Regions from separate parts of the Homo sapiens genome. Here region 1 is linked to region 2. The links come from fine-mapping of genetic effects on gene expression. A gene starts in region 2. The other region holds a variant in brackets. All regions are shown on one strand. Distances are between the middles of the regions.

Region 1 (4,388 bases), 32 kb before region 2:
ACGCCATTCTCCTGCCTCAGCCTCCCAAGTAGCTGGGACTACAGGCACACACCACGACACCCAGCAAATTTTTTTGTATTTTATTTTTAGTAGAGATGGGGTTTCACTGTGTTAGCCAGGATGGTCTGGATCTCCTGACCTCATGATCCGCCCACCTCAGCCTCCCAAAGTGCTGGGATTACAAGGGTGAGCCACCATGCCCGGCCTGCCAAGTTTTATATTTATATTTTATGTAAGGAATACATATTAATTTAATACAAGTCAAACACCCCTAATCTGAAAATCTAAAATCTAAACTGCTCCAAAATCCAAACTTTTTAAGCACTGACATGACATATATAAAATTACCTTCAGGCTATGTGTATAAGGTGTATATGAAACATAAATGAATTTTGTGTTTAGACTTGGGTTCATTCCCAAGAAATCTCATTATATATGCAAGCATTCAAAAAAAAAATCTGAAACATATCTGGTCCCAAGCATTTCAGATGAGGGATACTCAACCTGTATATTCAAAAAGTTTGTAGAAAAATTGAATTAAAAGATAAAAATAAAAAAATATAGGCCGGGCGCAGTGGCTCACGCCTGTAATCCTAGCACTTTGGGAAGCCGAGGCGGGTGGATCACAAGGTCAGGAGCTCAAGACCAGCCTGGCCAAAACTATATATATAGTTTTATATACTAAAAATATAAAAATTAGCTGGGCACAGTGGCAGGCGCCTGTAATCCCAGCTACTCAGGAGGCTGAGGCAGGAGAATTGCTTGAACTCAGAGGACAGAGGTTCCAGTGAGCTGAGATGGTGCCACTGCACTCCAGCCTGGGTGACAGAGTGAGACTCCGTCTCAAAAAAATAAATAAATAAATAAAAATAAAATAAAAATAAAAATAAATAAACTTTGATTCTCAACATAACCTCCAACAAGATTAAGACACTTTTGTGAGCAATGGTATCATTGGGTCCATCTCTTTAGAAATGAGGATCCTGGGAATTTAACCATGTCAACACAGTTTTTTTATATTAACTAAAGAAAAATGGGTGCCCTCGGCTGGGCATGATGGGTCACACCTGTAATCCCGGCACTTTGGAAGGCCAAGGGGGGGAGGATCACTTGAGGTCAGGAGTTCAAGACCAGCCTGGCCAACATGGTGAAACCCCATCTCTACTAAAAATGCAAAATATTAGCCGGGTGTGGTGGCGTGTGCCTGTAGTCCCAGCTATTCAGGAGGCTAAGGAAGGAGAATCACCTGAACTGGGGAGGCAGAGGTTGCAGTGAGCCAAGATCGTGCCGCGGCATTCCAGCATGCGTGATGGAGCGAGACTCCATCTCAGAAAAAAAAAAAAAAAGAAAAGAAAAATAGGTGCCCTTTAAAGATTTTTTTTTTTTTCCAGGCCAGGAGCGGTGGCTCACGCCTGTAATCCCAGCACTTTAGGAGGCCAAGGCGGGCGGATCACGAGGTCAGGAGACCGACACCATCCTGGCCAACACAGTGAAACCCTGTCTCTACTAAAAATATAAAAAATTAGCCAGACGTGGTGGTGGGCGCCTGTAGTCCCAGCTACTTGGGAGGCTGAGGCAGGAGAATGGTGTGAACCCAGGAGGTGGAGCTTGCAATGAGCCGAGATCGCACCACTGCACTCCAGCCTGGGCAACAGAGCGAGACTCCGTCTCAAAAAGAAAAAAGAAAAAATTTAAATTTGTAATAGAGACAGGGTCTCACTTTGTCCACCAGGCTGGTCTTGAACTCCTGGGCTTAAGTGATCCTTCCAC[C/T]TTGGCCTCTCAAACTGTTGGGATTACAGGCGTGAGCCACCACACCCGGCCCCAGACATGTTATAACAAGTTAGTATGAGTTTATTTTGGTACCAAAAATTTTTGAAATTCATGCATTGTTTTTTCATAAGATGCATTTTCCATGAGCTTTTTGAAGAGCCCTTTTATATTTAGATGTATATAAAAATGAACAAGACCTTATAGAAAAATATAGTGTACCAAAACTAAAACAAATAGAAATAGAAACCCTGATTAGTCCTATAACATTAAACAAATTGAATAAGTAGACAAAGTCTTACCACAAAGAAAACTCCAGGCCTATATGGCTCCACCAGTAAGATTAACCAAACATTGAAAAAACAAATAATTCTATCTTGTATAAATTCTTCCAGAGTATTGAAGAAAAGAAGGACCTCCCCTCCACATGTCACAAGGGTAGTGTTCTTGACATGAAAACCTAATGGAGACTGCATGAGAAAGAAATACTGCAGGCTCATAAACACAGATGGAAAAATCCTAAGCAAATTATTAGCAAAATGAATTTGGTAATATATAGGAAGAGAACGCAGTGTGCCAAAGCTGGATTTATTCTAAAAATGCAAGGTTAGAGATGAGAAAACTGATGAATCTGATTTGCCCCCTTAACAGATTACAGGAGAAAATTGAACAATCTCAAGGATTGCAGAGAGTGCATCTTGCCATGTGCAGTGAACTAGACCCCACAAGTGCATATCACACCATGTAGTAGGGGACTTGAGGCAAGGAGCAGCAGGAGAGGCAGTGGCTGCGCAGAAAGTCCTTTGGGCCAGTTGTTGAGAGAGCATCTCGAGTTTGGGAGCCTTATCTGGAATGTGTCAGCTTTGCCCTAAATAAATAAAAATTACCCCACACTTTGTGGTTTAAATGAAAAAAAAAATGTATTATCTCACAGTTTCTGTAGATCAGGAATGTGGGAGCATTAACTTGGAGGTTCTGCCTCACAGTCTCTCGTGAGGTTTGCAGTCAAGATACTGGCCAGGGCTACCGTCTTCTGAGGGTTTGTGTGGGGCTGGAGGATCGCCTTCCCAGGTGGTTCACTTACACGGCTATTGGCTGGGGGGCCTCAGTTCCTCACCATGTGAACCTGTCCACAGGGCTGCTGAGTGTCTCATGACATGGCAGCTGGCTTCCCCAGAGCAAGAGATCCAAGAGACAGTGCAGACAGGAAGCCAAAGTGTGTTTGTGCCAGCTCTCCTAGGTCTCTCACCATCACTTTCATTGATTCTATTCTTTAGAAGTGAGTCACTAAGTCCAGTTTACATTCGCGGGAGGGGAGCGAGGTTCCATGTCTTGAAAGGAGGAGTATCAGGCCAGGCGCGGTGGCTCACACCTGTAATCCCAACACTTTGGGAGGCCAAGGCGGGCAGATCATGAGGTCAGGAGTTCAAGACCAGCCTGACCAACATGGTGAAACCCCATCTCTACTAAAAATACAAAAATCAGCCAGGCATGGTGGCACGCACCTGTAATCCTAGCTACTCAGGAGGCTGAGGCAGGAGAATCACTTGAATCTGGGAGGCAGAGGTTGCAGTGAGCCGAGATCGTGCCACTGCACTCCAGCCTGGGTGACAGAGCGAGACTCTGTCTAAAAAAGAAAGAAAGAAAGAAAGAAAGAAAGAGAGAGAGAAAGAAAGAGAGAGAGAAAGAAAGGAGGAGCATCTAGAATGCATGGACATTCCTAAAACCACCTCACCTGGGAGACTCAAGCCCTGGTTGAACCATCCTACTTGGTGCCTGTACTGGAATAAGAGGAAATCAGACAGCCAGAGGATTGTTTCACTTTCAACTCAGCTACAAAACTCCTTGGCCATTCATGTTCCCTGGCAATCACACTGCAGATGTCTAGAAACTTCGCATTTCCACTTTTTTTCTTACAAAAATGTCATTCAGAATCACATTTCCACTTTCTGAGGTAACTAATCACACCCTCTCCTCTCTCTGCAAAGCTCCAACATGACTTCTTTCCCTTTTTCTTTTTCTTTCTTTGCTTTGAGACAGGGTTTCACTGTCACCGAGGCTGTTTAGTGCAGTGGCTTGATCTCTGCTCACTGCAACCTCTGCCTCCTGGGCTCAAGCCATCCTCCCACCTCAGCCTCCTGAATAACTTGGACCACAGGTGCGTGCCACCAAGCCCAGCTAATTTTTTGTAGAGACAGGGTTTCGCCATGTTGCCCAGGCTGGTCTTGAACTCCTGGGCTCAAGCAATCTACCCCCCTTGGCCTCCCAAAATGCTGGGATTACAGGTGTGAGCCACTGCGCCCAGCCTCTTTCCCTTTTTCTTCTCCTCTATTTTACCTGAATCTGCACCTGTACACACTTTCTCTGCCTCCTCTCCTACTAGAATGGAACAGCCATCTTTCTCCTCCTTTCTTTTTTATTTTTATTTTTTTATACAGATAGGGTCTCACTATGTTGCCCAGGCTGGTCTCAAACTCCTGGGATCAGGTGATCCTCCCACCTCAGCCTCCCAAAGTGCTAGAATCATAGGCATGAGCCACCATGCCCAACCTCTCTCTTCCTTTCAAAGCTTCTGGGTCCTCCTCTTCTGCTCGACTCCTCTTCCTTCTTGATTTCTCAAA
Region 2 (4,388 bases):
ACAAATAGAGCTAGGGAGGGCCACGAAGAGAGAGTTCTTGGGCACAAATACTTAATAACAAGAACTACCACAAAAGACTGCAAAAACCACAGCCTTGCACAAAGGCCACTTCAACCTTACACAAAAAAATATTTCTGGCTGGGCAAGGTGGCTCACGCCTGTAATCCCAGCACCTTGGAGGCTGAGGCAGGAGGATCATCTAAGGTCAGGAGTTCAACACCAGCCTGGCCAACATGGCGAAACCCCATCTCTACTGAAAATACAAAAATTAGCCGGGCATGGTGGTGCATGCCTGTAATCCCAGCTACTTGGGAGGCTGAGGCAGGAGAATTGCTTGAACCCAGGAGGTGGAGGTTGCAGTGAGCTAAGATCGCACCATTGCACTCCAGCCTCGGTGACAGAGCGACGAGACTCTCTCAAACAAAACAAAACAAAACAAATTCCTGCATGGCCATCTGTCCAACAACTGCCTGTCCAATCTTGAACTGGCACCACCCATGTTATTCATCCTTGTAGCCAAGGATAACTGTCTCAAAACAATTATGTAATACTCATTTTTCCTTTCCTTTATTTATTTTTATTATTTTTTTAGATAGAGTCTCACTCTGTCACCTAGGCTGGAGTGCAGTGGTGTGATCTCGGCTCACTGCAACCTCCGCCTCCCAAGTTCAAGCAAGTCTCCTACCTCAGCCTCCCAAGTAGCTGGGACTACAGGCACACGCCATCACACCCGGCTAATTTTTGTATTTTTTCTAGAGACGGGTTTCACCATGTTGGCCAGGCTTGTCTCAAACTCCTGACTCCAGGTGATCTACGCGCCTTGGCCTCCCAAAGTGCTGGGATTACAGGCGTGAGCCACCGTGCCTGGCCCATTTTTCTGTTAAAAACCTTTGTCTTCTTTTACCTCCCTGATAAGCACATAGTCTATACCCATTCCCGAATAAATATCCTTTTCTTTTAGAGTCTGTTATTTAGGTTGACATAAGATAGCACCAGTCTTTGGTTTTCCATGGTGCAGGGTACAGATGGGATGGAAAGGAGGCTCAGGTACTCTGAATGGTCTGCCTCTCAGGATTTCTGTGGGATGCAAAAGAGTATATGTACACTTCTGAAAAGTCAATCAAGCCTTTAGAAACTTAAGGCTTAACTTTCTGTCTCGGTTTTAGAAATAGATATTATTATATTGGCAGCGTGGCCTTGTTTGTACCTCCATGATTGCCTGGCTGGCCTTGCTAACCTAATCACATCTGTGACGGGATATAGTGATGTTTAATCTTATGATTGCCTTAAGAATTAAGGCAATCAGACGGGTTCGGCGGCTCATGCCTGTAATCCCAGCACTTTGGGAGGCCGAGGCGGGCGGATCACGAGGTCAGAAGATCCAGTCCATCCTGGCTAACAAGGTGAAACCCCGTCTCTACTAAAAATACAAAAAATTAGCCGGGCATGGTGGCGGGAGCCTGTAGTCCCAGCTACTCGGGAGGCTGAGGCAGGAGGATGGCGTGAATCTGGGAGGCGGAGCTTGCAGTGGGCCGAGATCGCGCCACTGCCCTCCAGCCTGGGCGACAGAGCGAGACTCCGTCTCAAAAAAAAAAAAAAAAAGAATTAAGGCAATCATAATTCCCCACGCACACTCATATGCTAGGACCCCGCCCCTTACCTGAAACGTTGTGGCTTATATAGACACTGCCAGGCACTGTGTTAAGTGCTCCCAAAGAGCACCCCAGTCTACCATTTTCCCTCTCGATTCTATATGTACACTCGGGACAAGTTCTCCTGATCGAAAACGGCAAAACTAAGGCCCCAAGTAGGAATGCCTTAGTTTTCGGGGTTAACAATGATTAACACTGAGCCTCACACCCACGCGATGCCCTCAGCTCCTCGCTCAGCGCTCTCACCAACAGCCGTAGCCCGCAGCCCCGCTGGACACCGGTTCTCCATCCCCGCAGCGTAGCCCGGAACATGGTAGCTGCCATCTTTACCTGCTACGCCAGCCTTCTGTGCGCGCAACTGTCTGGTCCCGCCCCGTCCTGCGCGAGCTGCCTGCCCAGGCAGGTTCGCCGGTGCGAGCGTAAAGGGGCGGAGCTAGGACTGCCTTGGGCGGTACAAATAGCAGGGAACCGCGCGGTCGCTCAGCAGTGACGTGACACGCAGCCCACGGTCTGTACTGACGCGCCCTCGCTTCTTCCTCTTTCTCGACTCCATCTTCGCGGTAGCTGGGACCGCCGTTCAGGTAAGAATGGGGCCTTGGCTGGATCCGAAGGGCTTGTAGCAGGTTGGCTGCGGGGTCAGAAGGCGCGGGGGGAACCGAAGAACGGGGCCTGCTCCGTGGCCCTGCTCCAGTCCCTATCCGAACTCCTTGGGAGGCCTGGCCTTCCCCACGTGAGCCGCCGCGACCACCATCCCGTCGCGATCGTTTCTGGACCGCTTTCCACTCCCAAATCTCCTTTATCCCAGAGCATTTCTTGGCTTCTCTTACAAGCCGTCTTTTCTTTACTCAGTCGCCAATATGCAGCTCTTTGTCCGCGCCCAGGAGCTACACACCTTCGAGGTGACCGGCCAGGAAACGGTCGCCCAGATCAAGGTAAGGCTGCTTGGTGCGCCCTGGGTTCCATTTTCTTGTGCTCTTCACTCTCGCGGCCCGAGGGAACGCTTACGAGCCTTATCTTTCCCTGTAGGCTCATGTAGCCTCACTGGAGGGCATTGCCCCGGAAGATCAAGTCGTGCTCCTGGCAGGCGCGCCCCTGGAGGATGAGGCCACTCTGGGCCAGTGCGGGGTGGAGGCCCTGACTACCCTGGAAGTAGCAGGCCGCATGCTTGGAGGTGAGTGAGAGAGGAATGTTCTTTGAAGTACCGGTAAGCGTCTAGTGAGTGTGGGGTGCATAGTCCTGACAGCTGAGTGTCACACCTATGGTAATAGAGTACTTCTCACTGTCTTCAGTTCAGAGTGATTCTTCCTGTTTACATCCCTCATGTTGAACACAGACGTCCATGGGAGACTGAGCCAGAGTGTAGTTGTATTTCAGTCACATCACGAGATCCTAGTCTGGTTATCAGCTTCCACACTAAAATTAGGTCAGACCAGGGCCCCCAAAGTGCTCTATAAAATTAGAAGCTGGAAGATCCTGAAATGAAACTTAAGATTTCAAGGTCAAATATCTGCAACTTTGTTCTCATTACCTATTGGGCGCAGCTTCTCTTTAAAGGCTTGAATTGAGAAAAGAGGGGTTCTGCTGGGTGGCACCTTCTTGCTCTTACCTGCTGGTGCCTTCCTTTCCCACTACAGGTAAAGTCCATGGTTCCCTGGCCCGTGCTGGAAAAGTGAGAGGTCAGACTCCTAAGGTGAGTGAGAGTATTAGTGGTCATGGTGTTAGGACTTTTTTTCCTTTCACAGCTAAACCAAGTCCCTGGGCTCTTACTCGGTTTGCCTTCTCCCTCCCTGGAGATGAGCCTGAGGGAAGGGATGCTAGGTGTGGAAGACAGGAACCAGGGCCTGATTAACCTTCCCTTCTCCAGGTGGCCAAACAGGAGAAGAAGAAGAAGAAGACAGGTCGGGCTAAGCGGCGGATGCAGTACAACCGGCGCTTTGTCAACGTTGTGCCCACCTTTGGCAAGAAGAAGGGCCCCAATGCCAACTCTTAAGTCTTTTGTAATTCTGGCTTTCTCTAATAAAAAAGCCACTTAGTTCAGTCATCGCATTGTTTCATCTTTACTTGCAAGGCCTCAGGGAGAGGTGTGCTTCTCGGGTTGGTGGTATGTCCCCTAGGAGAACAGTGAGGCAGAAAAGGCAGAAGCCTTTGGTATGGGGGGAAGAAATGGTAAACTACAAGAGAAATTTCCTGTGAAGAAACAGCTACAGATCCTGGGGGGCTTCAGATGTAAAATTGGGGTTATTCCCTATCCTAAGTAACTTGATCAGTCCCCCCAGGTCATTCTTTTTCATCTTCTAAACAGAGAAGGTAGCAGGAATCACTGTGGTGAGAGGTTTGTTATGGAGGCAGCAATAGAAGGGATGGGTGGGGGAAGAGGTTTGTATAGAAGGTGAACCTGGCCGTTCCCTGAACTTGGTACCAGCTGTGGCCTTAGAGTCCAGGGCAGGAATCTGGTCTGCCTTGGTTTTAGAAGTAAATATTATGTTGGGAGCATGGCCTCGTTTGTACCTCTGTGACTGCCTGGCCGGACTTGGTAACCTAATCACATCTGTGATTGGATATAGTGAGGTTTCAGTGTTCCCAAAAGTTGGGTTACCTCTGGGGCTGATTCAGGGTTCTCTTCTGGCAACTGAGCCTCCCAGCACTTCTGAACCCCACTTACTCATTCAGCTAAAGTTTCTGGACCTGCCAGTTCTTGAGAAATAGCATCCAACAGGGTAAAGCCCTTGGGCTGTG

What was found. PIP is the estimated chance that this variant, and not a neighbour inherited with it, causes the effect.
Region 1: its variant is fine-mapped to the expression of MRPL49 in whole blood (INTERVAL, PIP 0.92).

What each region holds. Positions count from the first base shown.
Region 1 is chr11:65,151,572-65,155,959 of GRCh38, reverse strand. No RefSeq gene overlaps it. Among named protein-coding and RNA genes, the nearest start is that of SPDYC, 16 kb to the left of the region's middle. RefSeq lists a silencer at 3,067-3,246. The variant C/T (reference allele first, on the strand shown) is at 1,771.
Region 2 is chr11:65,119,935-65,124,322 of GRCh38, reverse strand. MRPL49 (mitochondrial ribosomal protein L49) reads right to left here and starts at 2,002. Exons shown (of 4, transcript NM_004927.4): 1 at 1,899-2,002. The coding sequence starts at 1,976. FAU (FAU ubiquitin like and ribosomal protein S30 fusion) reads left to right here and starts at 2,189. Exons shown (of 5, transcript NM_001997.5): 1 at 2,189-2,233; 2 at 2,502-2,584; 3 at 2,679-2,823; 4 at 3,287-3,342; 5 at 3,517-3,693. The coding sequence starts at 2,510. The coding sequence ends at 3,642. RefSeq lists enhancers at 1,712-1,981, 2,142-2,231.